Linked DNA regions of Homo sapiens. The protein of the gene in region 2 purifies or fractionates together with the protein of the main gene of each other region. This does not show direct contact. Each region holds a gene or a part of one and is shown on either strand. Other genes may lie near its edges.

The links. Proteins that work in one complex are often made in the same cells at the same time.
Region 1: the proteins of TRIM47 (region 2) and FBP1 purify together in Homo sapiens (affinity purification with western blotting; 3 studies listed by BioGRID). This does not show direct contact.
Region 3: the proteins of TRIM47 (region 2) and SATB1 purify together in Homo sapiens (affinity purification with mass spectrometry; 4 studies listed by BioGRID and IntAct, with this or other methods). This does not show direct contact.

Annotation. Positions count from the first base shown.
Region 1 is NC_000009.12:94,608,505-94,615,530, forward strand, and holds part of FBP1 (fructose-1,6-bisphosphatase 1), read right to left. Parts: intron 1,558-7,026; coding exon 1,417-1,557; intron 1-1,416. UniProt on the Homo sapiens protein: Catalyzes the hydrolysis of fructose 1,6-bisphosphate to fructose 6-phosphate in the presence of divalent cations, acting as a rate-limiting enzyme in gluconeogenesis. Plays a role in regulating glucose sensing and insulin secretion of pancreatic beta-cells.
Region 2 is NC_000017.11:75,875,562-75,882,692, reverse strand, and holds the start of TRIM47 (E3 ubiquitin-protein ligase TRIM47), read left to right. Parts: upstream 1-4,111; 5' UTR 4,112-4,144; coding exon 4,145-4,819; exon of another isoform or gene 4,820-4,842; intron 4,843-4,868; exon of another isoform or gene 4,869-4,972; intron 4,973-5,879; coding exon 5,880-5,975; intron 5,976-6,200; coding exon 6,201-6,431; intron 6,432-6,593; coding exon 6,594-6,792; intron 6,793-7,131. UniProt on the Homo sapiens protein: E3 ubiquitin-protein ligase that mediates the ubiquitination and proteasomal degradation of CYLD.
Region 3 is NC_000003.12:18,415,326-18,422,351, forward strand, and holds part of SATB1 (DNA-binding protein SATB1), read right to left. Parts: intron 5,667-7,026; 5' UTR 5,643-5,666; coding exon 5,432-5,642; intron 1,754-5,431; coding exon 1,577-1,753; intron 809-1,576; coding exon 682-808; intron 1-681. UniProt on the Homo sapiens protein: Crucial silencing factor contributing to the initiation of X inactivation mediated by Xist RNA that occurs during embryogenesis and in lymphoma.

The DNA of each region.
Region 1 (7,026 bases), on a different chromosome or scaffold from region 2:
GCAGTCAGGGCCCGGCAAATCACAGTCAGCAAACATCAGTGGTGCCCGAAATTCCATCCTGGGCTCAGGTGGAACTTTGCTCTGGTTCTGCCACTAACTCCCCCACCCCACCCCTACCCAGGTCACCACATTTGGCGACTTTAACTAGTGCTATTACCCTACCCTTGTTTATTTGTTAAGTGCCCATGCTTCCAAGGAGGTGAAAGTCCACTTCCCTGACAGCCTGGGACAAAGGCAGCCTGTGTTGAGTTAGCCTTCCTGCCACACACAGACCCGGCCTCACCTCCAGCAGCCTATCTCGCACAGAAGGTTCCTGTTCCTTGTCTGTTCCTGGGGTTCAGTTTGCCAGCAAAAAGCACTTTACACATAGTTCACTAATGTCATAGGAGGACATCTCTAAAAGTTAAAAAAGTTGGCCAGGCATGGTGGCTCATGCCTGTAATCCCAGCACTTTGGGAGGCTGAGGCGGGCAGATCACCTGAGGTTAGGAGTTCGCGACCAGCCTGACCAACATGGCGAAACCCCGTCTCTACTAAAAATACAAGTGTGGTGGCAGGCGCCTGTAGTCCCAGCTACTCAGGAGCTGAGGCAGGAGAATCGCTCGAACCCAGGAGGCAGAACTTGCAGTGAGCCGAGATCACGCCACTGCACTCCAGCCTGGGAGACAGGGCAAGACTACATCTCAGAAAAAAAAAAAAAAAAGAAAGAAAGACTGCACCAGTTAACTGAAGGTTTGTGTAAATGTACACGAATAAATGTGGGAGCTATTTTTGAAGAAGCAATGTCGTCCACTGCTTCAGTTGGCACACCCATTCGTCTCAGGAAAACAGCCTTTTGGTGACTAAAGTAGAAAAGCTAGAAATGGATGGATACAGTTTATGGCAAACAGAATATCTACAGCCCCATCAGGTCCATAAATGCATTTTAGTTGGCCAACATAGTGTTGCACACATGCAGAAACATTATGTTTTTTACAATCCAGTGTTTCTTGAACCATTAATAGAAGCCTTGGCAAGGCGGGCCCCCTCCTCCCAATTGTAATTGCTGGAACTCTTCAGTTCACCCCAGTTCCACCCTTGCCCCCCGGCCTTCCTTCCCCAGCACACTTCATCATCCCTATGGCCTGCCTGGACCTGGCATTTGGGTCATTTGAGTAACAGCTGCTCTGAGGAATTCACATTGGAACAAAGACCCCCTCTTGTGCCAGTCTGAGATGGCATTTCTCACCTCCATAGTCTGCTCGGGAGGCATACACTCTCTCTTGGTCTCCTGCCCCCTTTCCACCACACATCATCATCTCTGTCCCTCCATGGGCATCACCTCCCACCTCCACATACCCCTGCCAATCCCCCACACATATCATTCATTTGCTCACAGACACCAGCCAAGCCCCCAGCCTCCTGTGAGGTCTCTCACCGGGTCCAGCATGAAGCAGTTGACCCCACAGTCCATGGCAAGGACCAGCATGGTGGCACTGCCATACAGTGCGTAGCCGGCTGCCACCAGGTTCCGGCCTGGTTGCAGAGCATCCTTCTCAGAAGGCTCATCAGTTGATTTCTAGAGCAAGAAAGAAATCAAAGAATGTTTTTGTTTTGTTTTGTGATTCTTTTTTACAGTTCAACCATTAACAGGAGGCATTCTCAAGGTGCTCTTCTAATGAAATAGGGCATCTTCCCAGAGGGGCCTTCCCCTACACATCAGCAATATCCTGATTAGATTATCACGGCAGCCTTCCCACCAGAACCCAGATTTCCTGCATCTGGATTCCTCTTTCCAATTAGGGCCCTCCTCCAATTTTTCTAATGTGATATTCCCTCATCTCTCCACTATCAGTTCCAAAAAAGAGCATGCCTTCTTGCCAGTTCCCACTAATTTAATCTTATTACGGGCATCCATCTCTGTCACCTGCCTACTCCATCTTTATTTAAATAAATTAACACTGGGCTGCAGGGCAGCCAGTCTGCGGAGGAAATCAGTTTTGTGAGCTCTTGCCGCTGCAGCCCATACTCTGCTGAGCATGTGGTCTATATCACTCACACGTCAGGGAAATTCTCAGAAACGTAGGAACTCAGAATATCTCCCCAGAGTCATTATGGGGTAGAGCAGATGCTGTCCAGTGTTTTAACCGTGATGCATGGGAAGAAGCACATTTTACATCACAAACCAGTGCCCCCACACACACACCAAAAAGTTACCAAAATAATACCTACACTTAGAACGTGGCATGTGCCGTAATCCATTTTTTCATTAAAAACACAGCCCACTGGGTCATGTGGTCCAGAGTTTTTCTAACACTAGGGAAGGGAGCCCCTTAAGGAGACAGCTCCTAACCACTGATTTCTTACTATTAATGATTTTCTTCTTTTTTTTTTTTTTTGACACGGAGTCTCGCTCTGTCGCCCAGGCTGGAGTGCAGTGGTGCTATCTCGGCTCACTGCAAGCTCCGCCTCGCGGGTTCACACCATTCTCCTGCCTCAGCCTCCCAAGTAGCTGGGAGTACAGGCGCCTGCCACCACACCCAGTTAATTTTTTGTATTTTTAGTAGAGAGGGGGTTTCACCGTGTTAGCCAGGATGGTCTCTATTTCCTGACCTCGTGATCCACCTGCCTCGGCCTCCCAAAGTGCTGGGATTACAGGCGTGAGCCACTGCGCCCAGCCTGATCTTCTTTATTAACACTGGATTGACCTCTTTGGTCATCAAGACAGCCCCAAACAAATCTTTCAGCTTAACTACTCTCTGCTTGAATTAAGCAGAAATAAAAATATGCAATTTCTCGAACTTCACTTATTCTTTTCCTAGATTCCTGCAGCTGAGCGTAAGCAGGGGCATCTGTATCACGCAGCTGGAGAAGGAAGTCATCCCAGCAAAACATTCCAGGTAATTTCTTCCCATAACTTTCAAAAGGGTGGCCCACAGAGCACCTGCATTAGAATCACCTGGGATATTTATTAAAAATGCACATTCACAGCCGGGGTCATGACTCATCCCTATAATCCCAGCACTTTGGGAGGCTAAGGTAGGAGGATCATTTGAGGCAAGGAGTTTGAGACCAGTTTGTGCAACACTGGGAGACCCCATCTCTACGAAAAAAAATTTTTTTTTAATTAGCCAGGCATGGTGGCATGTGCCTGTGGCTACTAAGGAGGCTGAGGCTGGAGGATCACTTGAACCTGGGAGGTCGAGGCTGCAGTGAGCCATTATCATTCCACTGCACATGCCTGGGTGACAGAATGAGAACCTGCCTCTTTAAGAAAAAGAAAAGAAATGCATATTCTGGGGCTACAGCCTAGACACACTGTCAGACTTTCCATGGCGGGGCCTGAGAATCTGCATTGCACTATGCAATGTGAAGGGGTGACCTTCACACTCAAGTGTAAGAACTTCACATTCAAGCATAACAACTACTCATATAAATGAGAAAACCACAAACCAGAAAACCACAAACCCATTTCTTTCCACCGCTTCCCTGCCCCTCCTAGTTTTCACCTGGGGAGGTGGTTAGTTAGCTGGTTGCACTGGGTTATTTGATTCAGTTTGGTTTGTATTCACCAGACAGTACAGTGGAGCTAAACACAGACTAAACTTACAGGATCAAAACTTTGAGGGAATAATTCCAAGTTTTGCCAATGCACAACCTTGAAAAATGAAATTAATGGCCTTTGTCAACATGCGCTGCCTGTCAGAGGCTCATTTTAACAATCACCAGCTTCCCTTGAAGCCAGGTACACAGTGGGTGGACTCAGGACTCTAACTCTCCTCTCCTCCCACTGCAGGCTTCAAGTAACCAGTTCTCTGCCAATAAAGGCCCCTTTTCCCAGAGATTCACCTCGCCCAGAACCATCCGTGCCGGCCTGTGGCAAAGGTGCAAAAGTAAACAGCCCTTCCCTGACATACGGTCACCAAATGCTCTACATTTATACACTTCCTCGCACGGAATAAAAAATAATAGTAATACTTGTCTATGACCCACATACTCAAAACGAAGAGAAAATTATCCCACTGAGCCATGGATTTGGAGGAATTCTTTTCTAGCCCAGCCCCCAATTTTTTTTTTTTTTTTTTTTTTTTTGGAGACAGAGTCTTGCTCTATCGCCAGGCTGGAGTGCAGTGGCACAATCTTGGCTCACTACAACCTCCACCTCTTGGGTTCAAGTGATTCTCCTGCCTCAGCCTCCCAAGTAGCTGGGATTACAGGCGCCCACCACCACGCCTGGCTAATTTTTTTTTTTATTTTTAGTAGAGATGGGGTTTCACCATGTTGGCCAAGATGGTCTCGAACTCTGGACCTCAGGTGATCCGCCTGCCTCAGCCTCCCAAAGAGCTGGGATCAGCCCCCTTTCTAATTCCTTCCTCCAAATGCTCAGCAATGCATGCCTTTCCTCCAAGGGAAACATATTCCATTCTCCTGCAGATGCCCAGGGACCAATGAGCACGGAGCACTTGGCAAAATCAGAAACCTCTGGACCCTTCCTTTCTCTGCCTATCTGAGGCCACCACCTGCTGTAGGCACTGGCTCCATGTCATCACATATTATTCCATGTCATCACATAAGGAGAAGTAGGCACAGAAACGGAGGGCCTGGGGGAGGAGAGACTGTCACGTCCACAGTGGTCTTTCCTCGGAGCAGAAACCAAACCCTACTTTTCTGAATCTCTGCTTTTGTGGTGGGAGCTGTAAAGGACATTGCAAGTTAGAGTATGTCCAGTAGAGGGTGATCAGGCTAGAGAGAAGTCTCAGATCCCTCTCCTGTGAAAGATGTTCAGCTTAAAGGGAAAAAAAGTGGGTGTGGTGGGCATTATTGGGAGGGCAGAAACACTGTTTCCAAACATGTCAAAGAATCTTATTTTCTTATGCTCTAAACAGCCAAGTGAGCAAAATGAAACAGATTTCAACTCAATATTTGGACAAACCATGATGGTTACCCAGCATTGCAGGAGAATTCGCCCTGTCAGGATGTCTCCAGCCAGACACTGGTGGGGCCAGGCACCGTGGCTCATGCCCGTAATCCCAACACTTTGGGAGGTCGAGGCGGGAGGATCGCCTCAGCCCAGGAGTTCAACACCAGCCTGGGAAACATAGCGAGACCCCCTTGTCTCTACAGACAATACAAAAATTAGCCAGGTGTGGTGGTGCACCTGTAGTCCCAGCCACTCAGGAGGCTGAGGTAGGAGGATGGCTTAAACCCGGGAGGGTGAGGCTGCAGTGAGCCATGATGGCGCCACTGCTCTCAGCCTGGGCGACAGAGTGAGACCTTGTCTCAAAAAAAAGAAAAAAAAGAAGAAAAAAAAAAGGCCGGACGCAGTGGCTCACGCCTGTAATCCTAGCACTTTGGGAGGCCGAGGCGGGCGGATCACGAGGTCAGGAGATTGCCACCATCCTGGCTAACACACGGTGAAACCCCGTCTCTACTAAAAATACAAAAAAAATTAGCCAAGCGTGGTGGCGGGCGCCTGTAGTCCCAGCTACTCGGGAGGCTGAGGCAGGAGAATGGCGTGAACCCGGGAGGCAGGGCTTGCAGTGAGCCGAGATCGTGCTACTGCACTCCAGCCTGGGCGACACAGGAGACTCCATCTCAAAAAAAGAAAAAAAGAAAGAAAAAGGAAGAAGGAAGAAAAGGAAGAAGAAGAGGAGGGAGAAGGAGGAGGGGAAGAAGGCAGAGGAGGAAGGGGGGGACGAGGAGGAGCAGGGGGAGGAGGAGGGAGGGAGAAGGGGGAGGGACAGGGAGAAGAAAGAGAAAGAATAGTAGTAGTCGTGGCCGGGCGCGGTGGCTCACGCCTGTAATTCCAGCACTTTGGGAGGCCGAGGTGGGCGGATCACGAGGTCAGGAGATCGAGACCATCCTGGCTAAAACAATGAAACCCCGTCTCTACTAAAAATACAAAAAATTAGCCAAGCGTGGTGGTGGGCGCCTGTAGTCCCAGCTACTCAGGAGGCTGAGGCAGGAAAATCGCTTGAACCAGGGAGGCAGAGGTCGCAGGGAGCTGAGATGGCGCCACTGCACTCCAGCCTGGGCGACAGAGAGAGACTCTGTCTCAAAAAAGAAATAGTAGTAGTCGGTAGGCCCTGGAAAGATGCTGTGGCAGGAGCTGCATGCAACATGACCACACATCCTTCCACGTGCCTTTCCAGGAATCGTGTAGCAAGGCCTGGTCACCATGGCAGGGTCACAGTTACTGATGCTGCCCCACTGGGCGTGGGCACCATGGTGCGATTCTAGCCAACAATCATCTCTGCAGAAAGCAGGAAAAATCCCCTTGGAAGCATTATAGATGTCTATGTTTATGCCTCATGAGCCCTCAACTGGTTTCAGCTGTTTCAAGCAATCAATAAGGCTTCAAAAAACTGAAATGACTTAGAGGTCTGTGTCATACTCATCATCACTTTCTTTTTATTAATTAATTAATTTATTTATTTATTTTTTGAGACAGAGTCTTGCTCTGTCACCCAGGCTGGAGTGCAGTGGTGCGATCTCGGCTCACTGCAAGCTCCGCCTCCCAGGTTCACACCATTCTCCTGCCTCAGCCTCCCAGGTAGCTGGGACTACAGGGGCCTGCCACCACACCCGGCTGATTTTTTGTATTTTTGGTGGAGATGGGGTTTCACCGTGTTAGCCAGGATGGTCGCAATCTCCTGACCTCGTGATCCGCCCGCCTGGGCCTCCCAAAGTGCTGGGATTACCGGGGTGAGCCACCGCACCAGGCCCCACTTTCTGTCTTTTAAAAAAGTCACTTCTGGTTCATTGAGAAGACAGCCGAGCCTTATTGTTGAGAATTCTGTCATTCATAATTCAAGCTGCTGTTGCAAGCTGGCTTGATTTTTTTTTTTTAGTTGATAGCCAATGTCTCTCAATTTCCCAGGTTTTTTTTCCTTAAAAAGTATTATTTGGGGGGACTGAGATGGAGAATGGGCTTAGTAAACATCAACACTGCTTTAGTTGTGGTTAACACATTAGCCAGATGTCTTCCTCTGCAAGGAAGAATTTTGCTACAAACCTCTCCTGCTATTCTGTGGATTTGATATTTTGC
Region 2 (7,131 bases):
AGTTGCCATCCTTTAGGATAGGGTCCTTGGACAGACAGAATGAGGGCAGGTGTGAACATGCTGAGCTCACATGGTGCCAGTTACCCTTGCCCTTGACTCTTAGACAATTCATTTTGAAGTGAACTAATACACTAGGCAAACAACTTCAAAACTCTGGAAATGGAAATGAAATAGCAAGATGCCAGGCTGGGCGCGGTGGCTCACGTCTGTAATCCCAGCACTTTGGGAGGCCGAGGCAGGCAGATCACCTGAGGTCAGGGGTTTGAGACCAGCCTGGCCAACATGGTGAAACCCCATCGCCACTAAAAAATACAAAATTTAGCCGAGCGTGGTGATGCATGCCTGTAATCCCAGCTACTGGGGAGGCTGAAGCAGGAGAATCGCTTGAACCCAGAAGGTGGAGGTTGCAGTGAGATGAGATTGCGCCACTGAACTCCAGCCTGGGCGACAGAGCGAGACTCCATTTGAAAAAAAAAGAAAAGAAGTAGCAAGATGCCACCACACTGACAAACCGCATCTCTGTGCTTTCCTCCTGGGGAGCAGATCTTTTCAAGCAGGGAGGACAGCAGGCTGTGGGTGGGGAGCAGAGGGTTGGCTGGGACCCAACCGGAAAGGCACCCCCTCCTTCCAGAACCAGGCAGGTTTGTGGCCTCACCAAACCCAGGCAGCCTGGGCACCAAAGCCACGGAGCAGGGTGGCACTGATGCCTGGGCCTCCCAACCGCTCCTGGGGCTTGGCAAACAAGTGATAGTCCTGATCAAGTGCTCTAGTGCTCTTGGTGGAAACCAATGTATGGAACTCATTACCCACCCTCCTGCCAAATCAGACACACCCAGGCCGGCTCCCTCTGCTACTCCCTCTGCCCGGAAGGTCTTTTCCCACCCCAGTCTCTGCCCGCCTGAGTCCTGGCAGTCTGTGAAAGCCCAGCTCAAATGCCACTTCCACAGTTCCCCAGCCTTTCCCATGGAGCCCCCAGGAGCAGATTGCACCGCTCTTTTGGCACTTGGAGTTGCAACAGTCTGAATGTGTGTGTACCCTCAGAATTGATGTGTTGAGATCCTGACCCCTAAGGTGATGGTCCTAGGAGGTGGGGTCTTCAGGTGGGCGGAGCCTCATTCATGGCATGAGTGCCCTTGTCCAAGGGGCCCCAAAGGCTCTCTGGCTGTCTCTTGGCCATGTGAGGACACAGTGGGAAGGCAGCCATCTACAACCCAGGAAGCAGCTCTCACTGGAACCCTGACTGTGCTGTCACCGTGATCGCAGACTTCCAGCCTCCAGAACTGTGAGGAGTGTCTGTTGTGTATAAGCCACCCAGTCTCTGGTGTTCTGGGATAGCAGCCCAGACACACTAAGACAGGGGTTCCTGAGTGCCTGGAGAGCCAGCTCCCTCCCCAAGAGGCTGGGTCCCTCCTTCTTTCTTTCTTCTTTTCTTTTCTTTTTTTTTTTTTTTTTTTTTTGAGATGGAGTCTCGCTGTGTCACCGAGGCTGGAGAGTACAGTGGCACAACCTCTGCCTCCTTGGTTCAAGCGATTCTCCTGCCTCAGACTCCCGAGTAGCTGGGAATACAAGTGTGTGCACCACCACGCCCGGCTAATTTTTTTGTATTTTTAGTAGAGATGGGGTTTCGCCATGTTAACCAGGCTGGTCTGGAACTCGTGACCTCAAGTGATCCGCCCGCCTCAGCCTCCCAAAGTCCTGGGATTCCAGGCGTGAGCCACCACACCCGGCACATTTGTGCTCTTTTGCTTGTGTTTTCTCCTCTTTAGCTCTGAACTCATGAAGTGCCTTCTGAACATTTCTAGTCTGGTCTCAGGGGACCTGAGGGTATTTTCCCACCCCCCAAGCCTAGAGAGCTGGGGAAACAGAGGCAGGAATGCAGACCCGGTGGGAGAGGTGGACAAGGGTTTGGGTGTGGGACAAGCAGCAGTGTGTGCTGAGGTTTAGGGAAGGGCCAGGGTCCTGGAACACAGAGAGGGCCAGGAACACCGGGGGACATGCATGACCTCTAGCACATTTGGGCCTGGGCCTCTCTCCAACATTTCCTTACTTATGCACTGTTATAGGTTGAATCCTGTTCCCTGAAAAAGACGTATTCGGATCCTAACCCCCAGGACCTGTGGCTGTGACCTTATTTGGAAATAGAGTATTTTCAGATGTGACTGAGTTAAGATGAGGGCATACTGGAGTAGAGCGTGCCCTAATCCAACAACTGGTGTCCTGATAAGAGGAAATGGGCACCGGGCACAGTGGCTCACGCCTGTAATCCTAGCACTTTGGGAGGCTGAGGCAGGCAGATTACTCGAGCCCAGCAGTTTGAGTGGGCAACAGAGCAAGACTCCCTAAAAAAAAAAAAAAAAAGGACATTTGAACACAGACACAGAGAAAAGGCAAATGACAACAGAGACTGATATTAGAGCGCATCTTACAGCTACAAGCCAAGGAACGCCAAGAATTGCCAGCCAGTACCAGAAGCTGGGACAGACGCCCAGGACAGAGTCTCCCTCAGATCCTGCAGAAGGAAGCCACGCTGCAGCACCTTACTGAAACACAGCATTTCTTTCTATTCCAAATGGAGAGAATACACCAGAGTGGTATGAGCAGTTACCTGTGACTTTGTCACTAACCAAAATTACAGATATCTCTGGGTGCGGTGGCTCATGTCTGTAATCCCAGCACTTTGGGAGGCCGAGGCGGGTGGATCACCTGAAGTCAGCAGTTCGAGACCAGCTTGGCCAACATGGTGAAACCCCGTCTCTACTAAAAATACAAAAATTAGCCAAATGTGGTGGCGGGCGCCTGTAATCCCAGCTACTCAAGAGTCCGAGGAGGGAGAATCGCTTGAACCCAGGAGACAGAGGTTGCAGTGAGCTGAGATTGCGCCACTGCACTCCAGCCTGGGCGACAAGAGCGAAACTCCATCTAAAAAAATAAAAATAAAAAAACATTATTTGGAATTTTCAATGCGAAATATGTCTGTTCTCCCCAGCTTGTTAATTTATTATTTATTTATATCGGCATGGACTCATAGATGTTTATTTTACACTTTGGGTTATAATCAGTGCTACTTTACTTATTTTGTTGTCATTCTGGTGTAGTGTTTTAACTTAACATTATTGAGATATAACTCATACAATAAAACGCACCACTTTAAGTGCATAATTAGATGAGCTTTAAATACTTCCAGTTGGGGAACCCCCAACCCCACCACAGGTGTCCCCAGTGTCCAGGGGCCAGAACTACATTCCTCAGACAAGGGACTTAGGGAATGACGTCAACTTCCCATTTCAGGTCTAGAAAAGTCCAAGTTCCCTACTTGGGGTAAAGAGTCGCTAAAGGAGCTGGGCGCTGTGGCTCACGCCTGTAATCCCAGCACTTTGGGAGGCCGAGGCAGGTGGATCACCTGAGGTCACGAGTTCAAGACCAGCCTGGACAAGGTGAAACTCCGTCTCTACAAAAAAATACAAAAATTTGCCTGGTGTGGTGGCAAGCGCCTATAATTCCAGCTACTTGGGAGGCTAAGGCAGGAGAATCACTTGAATCCGGGAGGCGGAGGTTGCAGTGAGCCGAGATAGCGCCCCTGCACTCCAGCCTGGGCGACAAGAGAGGAACTCTGTCTCAAAAAAAAAAAAAAAAAGAGTCGCTAAGGGGCAAAAACATATGTACATCAGCAGTTATTTTTCTCTGCAGTCAGCAGCTCAGGAACTTTGCTAAGGGTGCCAGGGAGGGGTCGAGCGCAAAGGTGCAGGCATGACACAGCTAGACGCGCCCAGCCCCTGCGGAGCGCTGGCCTGGCCCAGAAGGACCAGAGGGATGGAGGCTGAGTCCTTCCCATTCCTTCCACTGTACCTCTCGCGTTCTCCGCCCGCGCTCACTCAGTTTCACACCCTTTCAGCAGCGCCCTTCCTTAGGACCACGCGGACTCCCCTGGGGGTCGCGCGGGCTCGGAGGCCTCCCTGCGTTGTCTGGGCGGGGACTGGGAGTCCGCGGGCCCGCAGGCGGGCGGTGCTGCGGGGCGGGCCGAGCTGGGGGCGGGCGGGGGCCGGAGCCCTGGCCTAGGTCCCAGGGGGAGGTGCCGCGGCGCGAACGGCCCGGGTCCCTCCCAGGCCGGAGCACAATCGGCGGCGCCCTGGGCGGCCGCGGAGTCATGGACGGCAGTGGACCCTTCAGCTGCCCCATCTGCCTAGAGCCACTCCGGGAGCCGGTGACGCTGCCCTGCGGCCACAACTTCTGTCTCGCCTGCCTGGGCGCGCTCTGGCCGCATCGTGGCGCGAGTGGAGCCGGCGGACCCGGAGGCGCGGCCCGCTGCCCGCTGTGCCAGGAGCCCTTCCCCGACGGCCTTCAGCTCCGCAAGAACCACACGCTGTCCGAGCTGCTGCAGCTCCGCCAGGGCTCGGGCCCCGGGTCCGGCCCCGGCCCGGCCCCTGCCCTGGCCCCGGAGCCCTCGGCACCCAGCGCGCTGCCCAGTGTCCCGGAGCCGTCGGCCCCCTGCGCTCCCGAGCCGTGGCCCGCGGGCGAAGAGCCAGTGCGCTGCGACGCGTGCCCCGAGGGCGCGGCCCTGCCCGCCGCGCTGTCCTGCCTCTCCTGCCTCGCCTCCTTTTGCCCCGCGCACCTGGGCCCGCACGAGCGCAGCCCCGCCCTCCGCGGACACCGCCTGGTGCCGCCGCTGCGCCGGCTAGAGGAGAGCCTGTGCCCGCGCCACCTACGGCCGCTCGAGCGCTACTGCCGCGCGGAGCGCGTGTGTCTGTGCGAGGCCTGCGCCGCACAGGAGCACCGCGGCCACGAGCTGGTGCCGCTGGAGCAGGAGCGCGCGCTTCAGGAGGTGGGCTCCGGGGGCACACTCGGGTGAGCCGGGGCTGGTGACCGACCGCGCGCGAGCGGGCCGAGGACCTTGGACCCCCCAGTCTTCCCGGGTTGGGTCTTAATCTCCTCCTCTAACCTGAGGATCTTTGCGGTCCCTTCCAGCCTTGACAAGGTCATCTGCTGGCGGTGATGGAGATGGGAAGGGAGGAAGGAGGGACGTGAGAACAGGACAAGGACGCGAAGAGCGGGCAGGGGACCTGAAGCCGGGCCGGGGTCTATGGGGGTGTAGGCGGGAGGGAGCCGGGTTAGGCCCGCGGGGTTCCGGTAGCGTGGCTGCTGCTCCCGCCCGGAGGGTCACGCCGGTCTCAGCTCAGATTTGCCCTGGGCTGAGGCAGCAGCTTTCGATGGGTGTGGCAGGCGGCAGGAGGGCGGCAGAGGGCGACCGGGCACACAGATTCTCTGTCCAGCTGTTCCGGGGGCCAGTGGTGGGAGCATGTGAGCCGCGGCCTCTACCTCCCGCCCCCAGTTTCCTTTGGCCTCCAGCCCGGTCTTGGCGCCTCTGGCCAAGGGATTTTCCGTTTCTCCTGCCTGGAGCAGTGACTCATAAGACCTAGGGGATTTGCCCGGAATCCCCTTTTTTCCAGGCCTGGACTGTGGATGCAGGCTCTTTGGGAACAGTGATCCTCAGGACAGCTTAATGCCTCCTTGTGCAGTCACCCCTCCGCCGCCCACCTCCCAACCTAACTGGCTTACTCTCTGCCTCTTCCCCGCCGGAGGAAGTTCTCAAATTCATCTGAGCAACACTGAGACCAGCGGACGGCCCTGTACTAGGCCTCCTGTCAGAGACCCGAGGCAGACACCCAGTCAGCCTGCACGCCCCCCAGGCGTTCAGGAAAGGCACCAGCCTGGGCTGCAGGCACCTCTGGCATATTATGGGACATCGTGGCCACTCCAGTCCCACCTGATGCACAGATACCACTCCCCAGTCACCCCCTTCTCTCCCCTGGCAAGGCCTGGGACCCGAGTGTAGGGCTGTGGCCTCTGCCAGACCTCACACTCATGGAGGGTGTTGTCCACAGGCTGAGCAGTCCAAAGTCCTGAGCGCCGTGGAGGACCGCATGGACGAGCTGGGTGCTGGCATTGCACAGTCCAGGCGCACAGTGGCCCTCATCAAGGTCAAACACCCCTCCCTCAGCATGGAACAATCCACTCCAAACAAACCATGCCCATACCTACTGAGCACAAGTGTCCCCTGACCTGGCCCAGATCCAGGACAGGCTCAGTCTGGCCCCTCTGTCCCCTCAAGAGGGCCGGTGGGAAGCCGGGGTCAGGGAAGGAGGGGGGTACAGTCCGGGACGGTTCTTTGCCCTCATTGCCCCCTCTACTGTCGTCCTGTGCAGAGTGCAGCCGTAGCAGAGCGGGAGAGGGTGAGCCGGCTGTTTGCAGATGCTGCGGCCGCCCTGCAGGGCTTCCAGACCCAGGTGCTGGGCTTCATCGAGGAGGGGGAAGCTGCCATGCTAGGCCGCTCCCAGGGTGACCTGCGGCGACAGGAGGAACAGCGCAGCCGCCTGAGCCGAGCCCGCCAGAATCTCAGCCAGGTCCCTGAAGCTGACTCAGTCAGCTTCCTGCAGGTGAAGGCCGCTCTGGGGGCCACGGAAGGAACAGAAGCTGGGACAGGTGGGGTGGAGGGAGGAGGAGGCAGTGGGTGCATGACTTCCTGGCAGAGCTGCCTCCACCCCCAGCAAGGAGGAGCCATGGCCAGCAGCACTTTAATGGGCATTTGTCTGGCACAGGAGCTGCTGGCACTAAGGCTGGCCCTGGAGGATGGGTGTGGCCCTGGGCCTGGACCCCCGAGGGAGCTCAGCTTCACCAAATCATCCCAAGCTGTCCGTGCAGTGAGAGACATGCTGGCCGTGGCCTGCGTCAACCAGTGGGAGCAGCTGAGGGGGCCGGGTGGCAACGAGGATGGGCCACAGAAGCTGGACTCGGAAGGTGGGCACCGCCCCACGCCCCCCCGATGACTCACCCTCTGCCAGCCTCTCGCACAGGCCCCCAGGCCTGGCGCCCATCCAGAAGTGGAGGAGGAAAATTGTGCCTGGCACAGGGAGGAGCCCAAATCCTGCCAGTGACTAGAGCTGCCACCCTGTGGGGATCAATCAGCCCCTTGGACCTGGGGTAGAGGGGGCTTCTCCTAGCCCACCCTCTAGCTCCAGAGGGCTGTGGCCCGGGAAGCACATGGGGCAAGAGGCAGAACACAGGCAACGGGCATGTGTGTGAGCACAGCGTGCCACATCTGGGTGGTGCTTGCTCCCTGGTGGCTCTGGACTCTGG
Region 3 (7,026 bases), on a different chromosome or scaffold from region 2:
ATCAAACAGATGCATCTGGAGATTGCTCTCGGTCTCCTGATTGTTCCGATTAGTTAATTACTTTATACAACACATCTGCTGTATCGATGCATGAATTATACATCAGCTGCCTGTGGTGGCTATTTTTTCATGTTACTTCTACCTTCCTGCTCTGATGCGCTTGGGAAGACAATTTAAGGTGTACTGCTTTCTCCTGAGCCATCATGAAAAGCTTTAATGTATTAACCGATTTCCTTTCATTACTCTGTTCATATGAATTAAAAATCATAAAAAAATAAATAAATAAATAAGACTGTGGTAATAGTGAATAAGACAGTCTTTCACAAAATGTACACAGATGGCACTGTTCATGATATGCAAAAATATTTTTTTCTTAAGTAAACTTTATGTAAAATGCCTTCTTGTGATGCATTATTTAATTGACTAAACGTAAAAAGTCTTGTCTTTTGATAACCTGCACAAACCTACACATTTTTTGTGTGTGTGGGGGGGGGGATTGCTTTTAAATTATACATTGAAGTTAGGAAAAAAGGCAGAAGGATAGGGTAACAAAATCGATCTGTATTAACCTTTCTGAAACACAGACTAAAAAAAAATTGAAGGTCGACCAGAGAGAAATGCTTCATTTCAAAAGACCAGGTAAGAAGAATGTTTCACCCTAGATTTGCTGTCTTGACTCACCTGTGTAACTGAATTTTCAATGTGACCACATGATACACATCTTGAAGCATATCTGCTACTGTAGCATCAGGGGCATCTGTCACGTAAGACAGTGGAACTGGATTCCACTTTCCAACCTGGATTAGCCCTATTTCAGATAAAGAGAATATGTCACTAAATATTTTACCCTCAGATAATATATCTACTAGAAGGGTGTTCTTTTCTTTTCTACTACCCCTACCACAAGCAGTACCGTTATTTCTGTTTGAATGATTCCCTTCCCTCTAAAAGGCAGGTCAATGAAAATATTCACAGCTTAGCTTTCCAAATTGTAAAATTATGTAAATGACTGTAGGGTTGTTTATTATTTTGGAAATAAAACCCCATCAATAAAACCTATGCATAAGGCCACATTTTCCTAACTTACAGGAAGTTCTAATAAGACATAGCCGAACCAGTTCTAAATGGCTTTATGATTTAGATAAGATTCTCTATTGCAGTGGGAATCAGCATTGAAAAATACTTTGCAGCCCATAAAACCATCAGAAACAGAATAAAAGAAACAGAACTAGATATTCAGTCATAAATGCAAATTGACTCTCAACAGTCCATCTGCTCAAATACGCTCCTCACTTCCTTGTGGGTCCTCAGTGGAGCAGATTATTAAGGTCAATAAGCATACTAATGATTCAGCTGAAGTAATTTAAAAAAAAAATCTACCTCGACATTCCACATGAGCAAAATGTGTGTTAACTAAACCAAACTGAATTAAGCCAATTTTTTAAAGCCACAGCCTATAAGGAACCAATGTAATACACAGGCTACAGTTCTTTGAATAAAAATATTCAGTGCTTTCTCTGCAAGGTAAACAAAGAATGCTAAGCAATTTTTCCAACCCCACGTACACATTATTTACCTTTGGCCTGGGCAGCAGAGCTATGTGAATAACCTAGAGACAGCAATGCCATTTCGATCAGCTGGTTGAAAAGCATATCCTTTCTCACCAGCACAAATTCTGCATGCTCCTCCTTGCAATCATATTCAATGGCGTTTTCATAATGTTCCACCACACAGAAAACTGGCAGCATGGTTCCTATCAAAAAGATGAAGAAGAAGAGATGGAAAACCAACAATCTTCAGAAATACAGCTTGGGGGTGGCGGGAGGAAATATTAGCCATGAAAATAAATAATCACAAGAGATTCACTGTGCTTCCAAGGCAGACTGGGTACAGTACAGGCAAATGCACACAAATATATACATTCTCATATTATTTAAAGTCGTAACAGAAATATTTAAGTAGAATATGAACTTGGTCCTAAGGTAAGCTGTGCTCTAAATTAACAGTGCATTTTCCAAAAGCAATGAATGCAGAATTACCTTTCTGATCAAATAATAATGGTGACGAAAGAGAAATAAATGTATCTTCTCTAATTTGCTATGAGTAGTATACAGTATGCAAACATAACTCACCATTTATCTTCAGAAGAACCCACCTTTCTACTGCTTACATGATTTTGTTAATAATAAACTTTTCCTGGGTTTGTGTCCAAACAAATTATCTTCGACCACGAAATTTTCATTTTCTTCCTTTTTTAGATATTAACTCTAACTGGTTCCACAAATCATTTTCTTCCTTTTTTAGATATTAGCTCTAACTGGTTCCACAAAAAGTACTTAACCAAACTGGTGCTCATAATACACAATTTCAATATCTGCATAATGTAGAAAAATAACATTTGCTTTTATGAATACTCATTTAACCTACCTAACTAAAAAGAGAGCACGGTACCCATAAGTCTTTAAAATCAACAATCTTTGTTACAGTAAATAAGGTAAAAATGAGAGATAGAAAAGGAAACTGACATACTAGGATAAAGGAATCTGCATAGATTTGGTGTGCTCTCTCTTTATATATTTTAATCCAATACAGTAACTCAGTAGCTAGATGATTAATAAGCACCGGCCACACTACTATTAGAAAGAGGCTTCTTCTAGAAATTGATATTACGGAATGCTGTGGTACTCAAGGTGTTTATGCAGCGCACTGTCAGACTTCCAATGATAACGGAAAAGGGTTAAAAGCAGATGCATCTGAATTGTACTGTGGCAAACTGCCAGAAGGGTATCATCTTTAGCATAAATGATGACAAGGGTTACTTTAACAGGGCACCCAGGATCCACAATTAGTCCTACAATACTAATGCCTCTATAAGCTCTGTCCTCTGGACTCACAGAATCCTACCAACTTCTGAAGATGACTTAGTGCACACCAACCGTAGCTAAAAATCAGGATTTCCTACTGACACCAGAGAGGCCCTTCAAAGATTCTCTATTTGCTTGTTTCTGCTGAACAAAAGCCGGCAATAAAACAGCTACATCTTTCTACATGTGAGTCTTCACCAAAGCTTTAGTGAACTGTTCACAAGAGATTCTAGGTCTGACAAAACCCTTTAGGTTTACTTAGAAAAACTCACAAACTCATTCGGAGGTACCAATAGGCTAGGCATGAAAAACAAGCCGCAGAGCTTGCCAATATTTTTGTCATTCATTCAGCTGTTTTATACCAGAGAAAGAACCCGTCGGGGATCAGAAGACAACTTGGGGAGACCACAGCAAAAATAGCAATATGCAAACTGGCGATTCCTTCCTTGGCTTGAAGGTATTCTGGCAAAATCGCCTAAACAAATAAAACCATTCAATCCCTTTTTCTTAGTAGTGTTTTCTCATCTCAGCCATAATTTTCATTTAGCACCTATCAGACAGAAACCATGCACATGAAAAATAAGATGAAAATGTTAATAAAAACCCACAAAAAGACTTTAGTAATTTTGTTATTTGGAGTATCTGAGACCCTCCTACAATTAAACTGCATTTTTAGAATACATCCAAAACAAAACAAAACAAAACCAAAAAGCATTTGAGCAGGAAGTGAATTTACTGTACTTTTAGTTTTCCTCCTCCTGTCCTGATATCTTCAAAGAGTTGGGTAAGTACAACAAAAATGTACACATTCATTTTTCCTTTTGTAGGATGAATCAGATGTATTCTACAATATGCTTTTCCTTAGATCTATGAAATAACTGCAGGGTTTTCAAACTATTGAAATATATTGGATTTATTGTGGATTTTATTGATCATGTTTAGAGGTACCCTAAAATAATAAAGACGGCTATAAAGTGACAATAGTACTATCTAATTACAGACCTTCTAGCAAACTGTTGCGGTTACCCTCCCGTTTCTGGGAGTAATGCTGAACACAAGCCTTTTCTGAACTGTATGATTATTCGTGCTAGTGTTTGGCGAGAGTTCCAACTACAGCAACTTCATAACCTTCCAGCATTTAAAGGGGAGAGCACTGGTCACTGCTGAATGCTAAAAATACCACATGATTTAAACCTGAAGGCAGTCTTAGAAGCTTTTGCTGAAGGTTTATGAGCCTGTGTAAACAGCACGTCTGCCATAAGGAGCAGTGAAGTCTGTAGAATCCTTGTCTAAAACTGTCCTGGCATTAAAGTTTGCTGTGCAAATATCACATAATACCAGAGACAGCTGAAATCTCCTATTTAGGAATTTATGGAACTTACATGTTTGCAGGCGTCAGAAAGTCTTTTTTATACAGCCCCAGTGCTTCACAGTACAATATTAATGCACTCTGTTTGAAAAGCCGTAATAAATTATATTTTTAATGCTCTTACCCTGGCTTTCTTAAGATGCATACATTCTTGGCAAACAATCAATAAATAGGGTAATCATGAGTAGAGGCCAAAGAATTTGCTGAAGTGCTGTTTTCCCATTTTTAATAGATAAAGATCTAACAATACGGACTGCTGTGTCTGTTCATTTCAGGATCAATATATTCTTTGTTTTCGCCAAACCAAGGAAAAAATAAATGATTGTATGATAAATGTTACGCATCAAACACAATGAAATTCCTCTGCCTTCTAACTTTATCTACTTAATATTCTTGGTTGCTAAAATATAGCATTTTTATCCATTGCTTAGCAAATGTAAGGAAAATCTGATTCCTATACATGTTATTCAGACACAAAATGAAGCTCCTTATGAGGCACATGCATTACACCCAGGGTAGGCACTGCTTTACAGGAACAACACTGTTAAACACAGTCCAAGTTGTTAAACTGCATCAATTTAATATTGGTAGAAAAAAGTCACACAGTTACACATCTTCCCCTTATAAACTTGCCTAAATCTGTTCTTTCTTCATCAAAAATACCCAATTAAAACAAAAATAAAAAACTAGAATCATCAGATTTTTTACTGCTAATGAATTTGCTCTTAAGAAAATAAGCCACAAAAAATAACATTACCAAACTTCTACATAAGATGTCCAAGATCTCTGAAACTGCCCTACAACTAAGAATCTTAGGAAGAAGCTAGGGTAACTCTCAAATCACCTAAGTGTTTTATTCTTAATCAGGTTAGTTTGAAGAAACAGCTGCCTACAATCCTCGACTACAACACCTTTTGAATGGACCCTGCCAAAACTAAAACCATTATATTTAATTCAGTCCTTATTACCCAAAATGTTCCATGATTCCAGTCTACAGTAGAACGCTCCACCCAAGCATGGAGGCTATACTTTCCAACGTGATTGATACTAAGGACCCAGAATGTAACTAATGTACGATCATAAGGAGAATAAAGGCAGAGTATACAAAACATGTTCTGCCACTCCACCCCCACACAGTGTGGCCTTGTGTAGACAACAGGGCTTTCAGCTTTTCAAGATTTGGCTTGAAGGTATTTACCTTTCCTAAGGTTGGTTTTCATCAGATGGCCCGAGTGTTTTAAAGGCACTCCCTGCATTTTTGCACCTGTACTCCCAAGCCTTCCTCTTCCTAGCGGGCTCCCGTTCTGCTCCAGGCGGGCAATCTTGGCTGGTGGACCCTTCGGATCACTCACATTGTTAGACATTTCTGAATGTTCTTTCCCCTGAGTTGCCTCGTTCAAATGATCCATACTCAGTCACTGTCTAAAGATCACCTGCCAGAATTTAAAAAGAAGACACGTTATAGTTGGGCGGGGACCTACGTGTATATATGTGTCCTATGTAAATGTTTTAGCTCTAGATATCTCTCCACAAATATAATGTATTTGTAAAATGGCCTATCTAGATATGATACAGATGTTACTATATTTCTAGATGATAGCATTACATTCTTATTCAAATTAACAAAATGATCTGTGGAAACTGTACCAATACACATGAATAAAAAGATAACTGGCCTATAAAAAAACTAAGTGGGGAAAAATGGGCTTACTTTTAGAACAAGAATTATTACAAGTATAGCTAAAAAGAAAACAGCAAATTGCATTTACGTAGTCCCAATTTTTAACAATTAGAAACACATTACAAAATACAGCAGAAACACTTTAATAAAGGATGGAAAGATGATCATAGTTCAAAATATTAGAAATCTAATGTATATGTTTTATATGTATACATTTTATATGTGTATGTATATTAATTCTTATGAAAAAAACATAAACCATCTCAAAAGAAGGTAACAAACATCTAACTGCTTTTTAAACTCCCCATTGGCTTTTGTAAATTAATGCATAGAAAAAGTTTTCTACTATCAAAGTTCCAAGAGTTATGTGACAGACCTAGTCAAGTTTTGGGCCAAAGATGTGATTGGATCAGTTTACCCCTAAAGAAACAGGAAGAAGTGAAGGGTTTTCAAATATCCAACGTACTGATGCATTAAAACTCATGTGTTTTAGAGTCAGTATTTAGGTGTCCATTAGTAATAGAGGGCTGTTAACAATAAATATTTTTAAAAAATTGAATACACTTCGTGATATGCACATTAGGTTGAAGTGCCAAGCTCAATTAAAAAAAAAAAAAACACAAACAAAAAACCTTGATGATACTGGTAAAACAAAATATCCAGTATTCAGAAATAACCTCAGCATGCAATGGCATTAACATTGTAATTAACTTCAAAAAAATTAACAGATAATTATTTTCAGTTATATATTAGACATCAATTTTCCCATCATTTATAGTAAAGTGATTAGACAATATCAAAGTCATTTTTAAAGTATAGTTTTAATTAGAATTGATAAGAACAGGTAAGTAGAATTATTTTATGAACTTTGATGGTATTTGAAGTATTGAGCTTATGAAACTAAGGGGATCATATTTAGGAAAACCAGAGAGAATAATTACCATTTTTCCTAGCTGTCTAGTAATTTGATATAGCTTGTTTTTGTTGTAAATTCTTACACTGGAGCTATTTAAATCTGGATTTGTTGAAAGCCAGTTTGTATTAGCATGGCTTTTCTGTAAATATTTTTTCTTCTGTTTAACCATAGCCTACTTCTTACCATATAATCAAGA